Regions from separate parts of the Homo sapiens genome. Here region 2 is linked to region 1. The links come from fine-mapping of genetic effects on gene expression. Tissue or cell type: minor salivary gland. Region 1 holds a variant in brackets; the other region holds the start of a gene. All regions are shown on one strand. Distances are between the middles of the regions.

Region 1 (5,149 bases):
TGGTGGGATGTCATCATTTAAGGCAGGAACCGGCTATCTGGATGTGTATGTGCAGGTCACAAGGGATATGATGGCTTAGCTTGGGCTCAGAGGCCTGACAGTTACATTGTTCCTTAGTACAGGAAGGGCCTTTTTTTCCTTTCTGAAGGTGGACTGGATCCTTTTCATTTTTTTTTTTAATCTAAGTGGCCTAAATGACACAAAACCAGTATTTACATTTATTTCCACACAGTCCTAATTTATGACAGATGTACTTATTTTCTGCCATATAGCCTCTTTTCTAATTAGGAGAACCACAACTTATTCCTAACTTATTACTATTAATGACAGCACAGGCATCAAATTTTAAGGTGATTTGTTTGGGCACCCCTTTTTCTTCTGTTTTGCCTAACACTTTATTCATATCGTTTTTGAGCCCCCACCAGTCCTCAGTCTTTAATCTTATTTTTAAAACTGTGGTCATGGGAGGCTCAGATGGGTCATAACATCCATCAGGTTGGTCATTTCCTGGGCTACATGCCTTGTATAGAATAACATTATACAAACAAGTTCTTTTCAGAGTTCCAGTACACTTATAATAACCATAATATCATAGGACCATAGCAACCTTTTGTCCTACCTCAGTGACTTGATGTATACACTGGGAACAGTCCTCAGTCTGAGGAAGGTCAGTTGAAGTCCTTACTGTAAAAGTTCAAATTTTAAGGAAAATGAGTCCCGTGATGAGTTTTCTCATGCTTCGGTCGTGCGTCCGGGTGTGACTGGAGCAGGGCTTGTTGTCTTCTTCAGAGTCACTTTGCAGGGGTTGGCGAAGCTGCTCCTGTCCATGTACCACTCACAGTCTACTGATGTTTAAGGATGGTCTCGGAGGTTGGGCCTGCTAGAATAAACTGAGTCCAACACCTCTACACAGTTATGTTCAACTGGGCTCTCTGATACCGGGAGCAAGGTGGTGGGGTTTAGGGTGTTGCAAACTTCAATGGTTATGTGGGGATTTTCACATAGCAAGCTTTGGTACTTGTTAATCTAGCATTTGTTAACCAATGATGTCCTTTGGTAGTCATTAAAGTTACCACAGCATGGGGGACATTTATATTCAGGTTTTGCCTAATGGTTAGTTTATCTGCTTCTTGTGCTTTGTGCTAACAGGGTCACTGCTGCTAGGGCCCTTAGACCTGGGGGCCAGCCTTTGGAAACCTTGTCTGGTTGTTTTGAGAGATAGGCCACTGGCCTTGGCCAGTGCCCCACAGTCTGAGTTAAAACTGCCATTTTTTCTTTTTCTGACATATAGAGTGTAAAGAGTTTTGTCAGGTCAGGTAGCCTCAGGGCTGGGGCCGACGTGAGTTTTTTTTTTAACTCATGAAAATCTCGTTGCTGTTGGTTGTAATAGATGTAGTTTATCTAATCTACATTTTTATTGACTGTCACCTACCAAAATGTTGACTCAAATCTTGCAGCTATTTGATTTCAAGCTTTAAATTGATCTGGTATTCCTCATGGGACTCCAATTGCATCTAAATAGATGTGAGAGTCGAAAGACCCATAAGGGGCTTCTCTCGCTTTACGATGCTTTATTTTTTTCCTTCTGGTTGATGTAATGCCAGGGTGAAAGGGATAGCCAATTGGACTAAAGTACAAGTGCCACTCCAGTTATTTGGCAGAGTGCCCAGTAAAGGTCCACCACAATACCACCACACATCCGCTTGGGGATGAACAAGGGCTGACTGATTGATAATTTCTTGAAAATTCTTAAGCTCACTGCATCCCTTCAGGTCTCCAAGGAATGCTAAATTTCCTCCCTGTCGTGAGAGACACAAAGTGAACTTAGTGTTGGGAGACGGAGGCTGGATGGCCCTCAGGGGCTGACCCACAGGGTGCCGGACTTTGGTATATAGCAGAGAGAGCTTGGCACGACTTATTACTCCAGGCTGTAGAATCCTGGAAAGAGCTACCATGTAGCCCACACCTGGTCAACTGGAAGACCACCTTAGTGGAAAGGGGACAATCTGGGCCTCTGGCCTGCCATGTGCACAAGCAAAACAATTGTTTTTGTTTAACATGCAGATGGAATATTGGATCTATTTTAACCAGGCATTTGCATCTTGGTATCCTGTCTTAATTGCTAAAGTTTAAGTCTTTAACTTCTATGATCCTCTAGTAAAATGAATGTATGGTTTTAGGAAATTACAAAAACCGGTTGGGGCAGTCCATCCTTGCCCTTTAGTGGTCCACAGAATGTTGGACCAACTATGGCATGAAAGCTCTACATCGGGGGGCAAGACTCCTGGTTGGCACTGGGGTCTTTATCGAAATCTCCTCGGATTAAATGGTCCTAGTTTACTAATGCCCAGTCTGAGGAGAGGCAGGAGAGACAGAAGTACCTTTCTGAAGTAGAAAGCTGTCTTTGACTTGGCAAGTCCTCACAGGTTATAACAAGGCAAGCATTAAATGCAATAGTTTGAGGTGAAATTGACTTGGTTATGTTAATAACTAGATGGTCAGCAATAGAATGAGGAAAGAAGAAAGAGTAATAGAA[T/C]AGATGAAAAGAGTTAAATTTTGCTTAGCTTTAGTTTGGTAGGGTTTTCCCCTGGGACTATGGCCCACGACTCTGGAAGTGATGGTGTTTTCTTGACTCGGGTGTGATGAGTCCATTCTTTTTTTTTTTTTTTTTTTGGCTGTACAAACAGCAGTCTCAGTGGCTAGCAGCACAAGGTAGGGTCCTTCCCAGGCTGGCTCGAGTTTTTCTTCTTTCCACCCTTTGATGAGAATGTGATCTTCAGGCTGGTGCTGGTTTACCGGAAATTCTAGGAGTGGTACATGTGCTAAAAGACTTTTAGTTTTTGAGAGAAAGGAAAGTGGAAGATAAATGAAGTATATAATTTTTAAGAAATTGACCTTTTGGGGCCGGGCGCAGTGGCTCACGCCTGTAATCCCAGCACTTTGGGAGGCTGAGGTGGGCAGATCACCTGAGGTCAGGAGTTCGAGACCAGCCTGACCAACATGGAGAAACCCCATCTCTACTAAACATACAAAGTTAGCTGGGCATAGTGGTGCATGTCTGTAATCTCAGCTACTCAGGAGGCTGAGGCAGGAGAATTGCTTGAACCCGGGAGGCGGAGGTTGCCGTAAGCCAAGATTGCGCCATTGCACTCCAGCCTGGGCAACAAGAGTGAAACTCTGTCTCAAAAAAAAAAAAAAAAAAAAGAAAGAAATTGACCTTTGTTTTAAATGTGGGGACCTTGGCAGTGGACTTTATATTCCTTAGTGCCTTTTTACTGAGAAAAATGTTTATTACTTTTTAAACCAAAGAAAGCCAAATACCATTTTACACTTAACAGTGCTTCTCGTGTGATTTTTATACCAGATAAGCTAAATTTTATTTTTATATTAGTGTGTTATTAATGTTAAACTTAATTTTAATAAAACCTTGTAGACATATTTATCTAATTTTTAATGTTTGACCATAAGGTAAGATTTTATAGACTCTTTTTAACCTTTTATTGTAGCAGGACGAGCCACAGACAAAACTCCTCAGACACTGAATTAAAGAAGGAAGAGGTTTTTATTCGGCCAGGAGCATTGTCAGACTCGTGTCTTAAGAGCCGAGCTCCCCGAAAAAGAAATTCTTGGCCTTTTTAAAGGTTTACAACTTTAAGGGGTCCACGTGTAAGGGTCGTGGTACATCAAGCAAGCATGGGAAACATGACTGGGGGCTATATGCATCAGCTAACAGAACAAAAAGTTTTACAATGCTTTTTTTCATACAGTGTCTGAAATTTACAGACAACACAAGTAGTTTAGGTCAGGGGTTGAGGTTATCATTATTACTTTTTTTAACTCCTAAGGCCGGGTGGTGGTGCCAAGGTTGTCTGGCTGTTTATCTTACTTTTGTTTTTTTTCCAACTTTTTGTTTTTCTCTCCTCCTGTCTTGCGAACTAGGCAAGGTGGGGAGAGGAGGGCAGCAGGAGTAGTAGTGGTCTCCTTCCTTATCTCCCCCTTTGAGAATTTTCACTAATCAGTGGGAGTTCTTTTATTTTTACTTTTTGAGTCTTTTTGTGAGACAGAGTGATAGTATTTTATGTAATATACTTGTGTTGAAGTTTTCTGCTGAACCATGGTAGCTACAAAACCTTTTATCATTTGAAGGAGCAAATATAATATACAGGGGAGCAGCAAGCAAGTTCCTATTACTAGTAATACACTTACAATGAGGGTTTTAAATTTTCTTACAGCTGGAAACTATGTTCTAAATGAACACCTAGGATCAGACCTGTGTTAAACCTGTATATGCACATGTACCAACTTTGTCATGCCTTAAGCAGGTTAGTTCTTTTTACTGTGTCTTAAAAGCTTTTTCCTAGTGAGTAACATGGTATTTTTTAATAATAGAAGTTTTAAGAGCCAGATGCTTGAACTTGTGGCATCTGTTTGGGGAAAGAGCTAGTTAAAGTTATCTTGAGGCATTAACTCTTTTGCTTCTCAAGGCCATTGGTCTCTTATGTTAGCCTTTTTATAAACATAACATGAAGAAACATCTAGGCAGCTAGCAATGTTTTCAGCCAGCTGAGCAAATAGGTTTTTTCTGTTTTTGCTAAAGGAGGAGGTTCTGGTAACTTCTGGTTTATATGTTTAAAGAATGACTGAAAGACTCAGAATTGTTACTGGGCTGGACAGGTCTGGGTTTCCTAAGTAGTATGTGTACAGTGGGGACACCTTATATAGGTGTTTCTTCTAACATGGTTATGGGGGTTAACAACAACAAAACAATGTACAGCATATTCGTATCCAGCAAGGACAAAAGAGGTCCTTACCTGGGAAAAAGGTTGAATACAGCGACCGAACAATAGGAAAACAGTTAGTATTACAGGAAAACTATTAGTCTTAAGATTTTTAACTACATTTACTTGCTCGATGAGTCCTCAAGCTTCGGCCGTGCGTAGACTGGTCAGCCTCCGGAGTGACCAGAGCAGGGCTGTCGTCCTCAGCAGCAGCTTGGTCTCGTCTCAGGATCAGCCAGGTTGGGTGATCTGCATCCTGCTGGCTGGTCCACTTGTCCTGAGCTGCCAGTGTTAGCTGACTGTGATGGATCCAAGACACAACACCTGCAACTTTAACAGCAGTGGGAGTGGACAAGGTTACAGTATAGGGT
Region 2 (5,149 bases), 230 kb after region 1:
AATTTTAACAAAAAATGATCTATTGAGAACCATTGTATTAGAGTAAGCAGATGGAAGAATAGGAGATTGCAGAGGTTGGTGATTCATGTGAGTCACTGAGTCAAATTGATGCTCAGTTAGCATGAATTCCATGACGTTCAGTGGAAGTTGGATGTGTTAGGGTAGTGATAAAGCTATAGGAGTTGGATGGATATGAGTATACTTGCTACAAAGAAGAAAGTAGAAGGAATATAAATAGATTTTTCTGTTCTATTTAAATAGAAGGTAAATAAAAGCATGTTTATAGAAGCAGGTAATGGAGATCTTAGATATCTGAATTAGGGATAAATAGATGTCCCAACACCTGGGGAAAGTTCATGTGGCAGTATATGCTTCAGAAGACTACAGCCATGTCTATATGAAGGGCAGATCTTGTATCTCTTCTCCTGCCCCAATGTGGGCATGCTGGCAGGGTACCAAAATCATCTCTTTCTTTTGTACTTGAACCATGTGACACTTCCTTGGGACAAAAAGGCACTTAGAGCATAAACCAAATACAATAGGGGTAGAGAACACTGAGAAGGTTATTAGTATTGTTGTTTTCAGAACAATCAGAGGTTCCAGTGGCTGGAGAATATAAATAGGATGGAACAGATAGAAACACTTAAATTTTTATATACTTATTCAGAATTATAAAATGTGTTATCAAATACTGAATATGAATATGAAGTTTCATCATGATTATGGGAAGAACTTCCCCAAAGGCTTACTCCCTGATTGATTGGACTTGAGAATTAAGCAGTAATGTGAGTAGGTCCTGGGCATAAGATCCAAAAGCATTCTTTACCCTGACCCCACAATAAGGGACTTGTAGTATGTGAGTGGATAGAGCTAGGTTTTCCCTGAGGAGTCCTTTTTGTTGTCAGCAATACCAGTCCTATAGGATCAGACCTTTGATAATTCTTCTAGAAATCCCCCAGAGCAGCTCTCATGTTATAAACTAGATATGTGATTCTTTCCTTCTTTTCTTTTTCTTGTCTTTTCCACACCCGTCTCCACCTTCCCTCCTTCTTTTAGAAGAGTATTGCCTTTCAAAATTGCATAATTTATTACTTTTATTCATTTCCCATGGACTGGAAAAGAGAACTCTAGTGTATTATATTATTAGTCTCAAAAAAGTACTATTAGCCTCTCATAAAATACTGATAGATTTTACAGTTGTGGTCAGTGTTTACTTTTGACCATCAGTTACCAGTAACTTCTTTCATGGTTCAATAAAATCATAGCTTTAGTTTATGGCACCTTTTCAAAACTTCCTTTGGCTTTTCTTTGTGCTTAATTTAGGTAGTTTTGCTTTTAGCTCACTTCCTAATTCTCTTTTTTACACAATTCATTTTGGTCCTAATTTCTTTACTTTACTATATAAACAAGGTGCTGAAATGTGTGTGTATGTATTTAACTTCCTCTACCCATTTGCTCTTGGTTATTTCTTCAGTTATGATATTCTGGATTTGCCAGTCATTGTCCGTCCTCCTGCCTCTATTACTGGCATAATGTCATTGGGTCTCACAGTTTCATTTCTTCATTCTAATTCTATTGCATGTTTCTATAATGTTTTCTGTAGTATTTTTACAGTTACAGATGCTTTTACACGTACTGTGTTGCTTAATTCGCCTAACAACCCTGTATAAGATGGCCAGAGTAGAGGATGTTAACATTTATAGGTGAGAGAGCTGAGAGATATAGAGATTTAGTTACTCAAGCCCTCATGGCCAGGAAGGAGCCAATCTGGGGTCATAATCAAAGTCTTTTTTTTTTTTTTTTTTTTTTTTAGTCTACCAATCTTTCTGTAAATAAAAGTTGTTTAATTTTAAAAATACCAAGGGAAGGTTTCAAAATAGATACTTTAAAGAGAGCCAGAGACCTCATTTTCCTCTTTTGCCTTTTCCATAGGGTCTAAAAACTGTACATTCAGTAAATACTACATTAAAGTCATGATTTCTTTTTCTTCTTGTTCATAATAATAGAGGACGAGCTAATGTGTAGTCTCTCATTGAAAGAACTCAATTAAAATGGGAAAGCAAATGAACTAATTGTCATAATAGTCATTCACACAGTTTTGGAAAGAAAATGTAGTAATTCAAATGTTGGGGCTCTTTTAGCCATATTGAGTTAATTTGGCAATAGAAACTGTGTTATTCATTTCTAAAATACTTTCATGGGATATTAATATTGATCTTCATTTGTAGTAAACTAAGAAGGTAAAGGTATTGGTAAAGGAATTTTTTTGTGTTTTGGCATGTGTTTTTCTGCTTCTGAAAGCTTTTGGGTTACCAATTAGATATTTACTTCTCAGAAAATATTTATTAGTATTTGGCTACTCATTGATTTGTTTATCAAATACTTGTAAAATTAGTGATCATGGGAGGATCCAAACATAAACCAAACATGATTGTGCCTTGAAGGCATTGTGGACCATACAAACAGTACTTAAGATGTATACTATTTTACTATATTACATAAATAATACGTACTCAAGGCTAAAGGAATCCAGCAGAAGTTTGCAATAGCCATCACAGAGACTAAGAGAGCTGACTGCAGACCGTTAATGTATGCCAATGAGTATTGGTTGTTTCTGGAGTTTTCTGAGATTAAAATAAAAATATTTAAGGAAATTTTCTTTAATACACTATATAATGAAGGAATGTCATGATTAGTCGATGTTAGAAAATCTTTTAATACATATATTTCATCAGCAGGTCAAATAAGGGTATCTGTAATAGTCACTTTATTAGATGCCAAAAGACATCTCATGTAATTCAGACATTTCTTAGAATAGATTTTTTCTTGATCATAGTAAGGAACTACTACTTCAGATCAGTAACAGTTATTGAAGTTGAAGTAAAATGATGGAAATCTTCTGTTAATATTACTAAAAGAATACAAGTTGCGGATGTCATCGTTATTATTTAACTCTTGTTGGATTTTTACTTCAATCCATGTTAAAGAAATTAGAAGAAAAAATAATGGAAAAAGGGAAATAAAATTATCACTTGCTATTAAGAATATTTATGAAAGAATTAATAGAATTCATGAAAATTTAGTGGAGTACCTAGTTGAATTATACCAATACTTCTATAAATAAACTTCCCAGTTAGATGATATAATGAAAAAGATACACTATTCCCAGCAGCAACTAAAAAGTACTTATATCAAATACAACTTGAAATAATGAAGAGACCATCTTTTTAAATGTAAGAAATATGTAGATGTCAGTTATTTTTAAATTAAGATTTAAGGCCAGGTGCGGTGGCTCACGCCTGTAATCCTAACACTTTGGGAGGCCAAGCGGGGGGCGAATCACTTGAGGTCAGGAGTTCAAGACCAGCCTGGCCAACATGGTGAAACCCTGTCTCTACTAAAAAATACAAAAATTACAGAAATTAGCCGGGCGTGGTGGTGCATGCCTGTAATCACAGCTACTCGGGAGACTGAGACAGGAGGATCACTCGAGCCTGGGAGGTGGAGGTTGCAGTGAGCCAAGATCGCACCATCGTGCCCCAGCTTGTGGGATAAGAGTGAAACTCCATCTCAAAAAAAAAAAAAAAAATTGAGATTTAGATTTGATGCAATTCTGATGAAAATATCAATGGTTAGGTTATGAAGTTTTGTAGAAGAATAATAGGCATGCACATACACACACTTATTACACATATATTCTAAAAAATGGATGGAGAGGTTGAATGTGGCAAATGCTGTTAAATGGTTGAACATCATACAATTAATTAATTTTTTTTTTTTTTAAAAGACAGAGTTTCACTCTTGTTGCTCAGGCTGGAGTGCAATGGTGCAATATTGGCTCGCTGCAACCTCTGCCCTCCCACCACCCTGGGTTCAAGCGATTCTCCTGCCTCAGCCTCCTGAGTAGCTGGGATTACAGGCGTGCACCACCACACCCCGCTGATTTCTGTAATTTTAGTAGAGACAGGGTTTCACCATGTTGGCCAGGCTGGTCTCAGACTCCTAACCTCAGGTGATCCACCCACCTCGGCCTCCCAAGGTGATTGGATTACAGGTGTGAGCCACCACGTCTGGCCATAAGTATCCTACAATTAGTTTCGTTAGGATAGCATGATATCATAAGATTAGTCAGACTGAAAATGATATAGAAGAGATAGCCCAAAAACAGACATTATTTTTTAAGAATTTGATATATTTATCAATGGCAAATGAAAGGAATTCACTATTTAGAGAAAGATAAAGAGGTGGGCATGGTGGCTTATGCCTGTAATCCCAGCACTTTGGGAGGTTGAGGCGGGTAGATACTTGAGGTCAGGAGTTCAAGACCAGCCTGGCCAACATGTTGAAACCCCATCTCTACTAAAAATACAAAAATTAGCCGGGTGTGGTGGCAGGCACCTGTAATCTCAGCTACTGGGGAGGCTGAGGCAGGAGAATCACTTGAACGCAGGAGGCAGAGGTTGCAGTGAGCCGAGGTTGAGCTAGCCTGGGTGACAGAGTGAAACTCTGTCTCAAAAAAGAAAAATGTTCATTATACATCAAAATGAGTAAATTCCAAATGGACTAAGGCAGGGGTTGGCAAATTATCAGTGGTGGGCCAAATCCAGCGCCCCCCCCCCACCCATTTTTTTTGTTTTTCCACCCACTGCTTTCATAAATAAAGTTTTATTTGAACATTGCCACATTCATTCATTTACATATTATGTGGGTGCTTTTGCTCCACCAGAGCAGAGTTGAGTAGTTGGGACAGAGACCATATGGCCTGCAAAGTCAAAAATATTTGCTATCTGGTCCCTTACAGATAAAGTTTGCTGATCCCTGGAGTAAATGAATGTATTATTATAAAAATGAAACTATTTTCTTATTCTTTTAATGTGGAAATAAAACTTTGTAAGAGATAGAAGAAATCACAAAGGTAAAGACTGTCAGATTTTTTTGGCACAAAAATGGAAACAAATATATAAAATTTTAACTTAACGTACATATTGAGGAAATGTTGATAACAAATGCTACTGAGAGTTAATAGTGTTCCATTATAATGTACTTTTTGTAAATGAACATTAAAAATAGCTGCAAATTGAAACAAAGTGGGAAAATACTTTTAAATGGTGTTTTTTTCATAAATTACTGGAGTAAATATAATTAAGAA

Which allele goes with the higher level. Alleles are on the strand shown, and positions count from the first base shown. SD is a standard deviation of normalised expression in the study named.
In carriers of allele C in region 1, the expression in minor salivary gland of the gene that starts at base 2,625 in region 2 tends to be higher than with T alone (large effect, 1.6 SD a copy in GTEx).

Evidence for each region. PIP is the estimated chance that this variant, and not a neighbour inherited with it, causes the effect.
Region 2: it holds the start of ZMYM4-AS1, and the variant in region 1 is fine-mapped to the expression of ZMYM4-AS1 in minor salivary gland (GTEx, PIP 0.95).

The regions. Positions count from the first base shown.
Region 1 is chr1:35,137,926-35,143,074 of GRCh38, forward strand. It overlaps LOC105378644 (a long non-coding RNA gene), which reads right to left. Exons shown (of 3, transcript XR_947180.3): 3 at 3,544-5,108. Among named protein-coding and RNA genes, the nearest start is that of SFPQ, 53 kb to the right of the region's middle. The variant T/C (reference allele first, on the strand shown) is at 2,537.
Region 2 is chr1:35,363,453-35,368,601 of GRCh38, forward strand. ZMYM4-AS1 (ZMYM4 antisense RNA 1) reads right to left here and starts at 2,625. Exons shown (of 2, transcript NR_046659.1): 1 at 2,514-2,625. The region is part of intron 5 of ZMYM4 (zinc finger MYM-type containing 4); the gene reads left to right.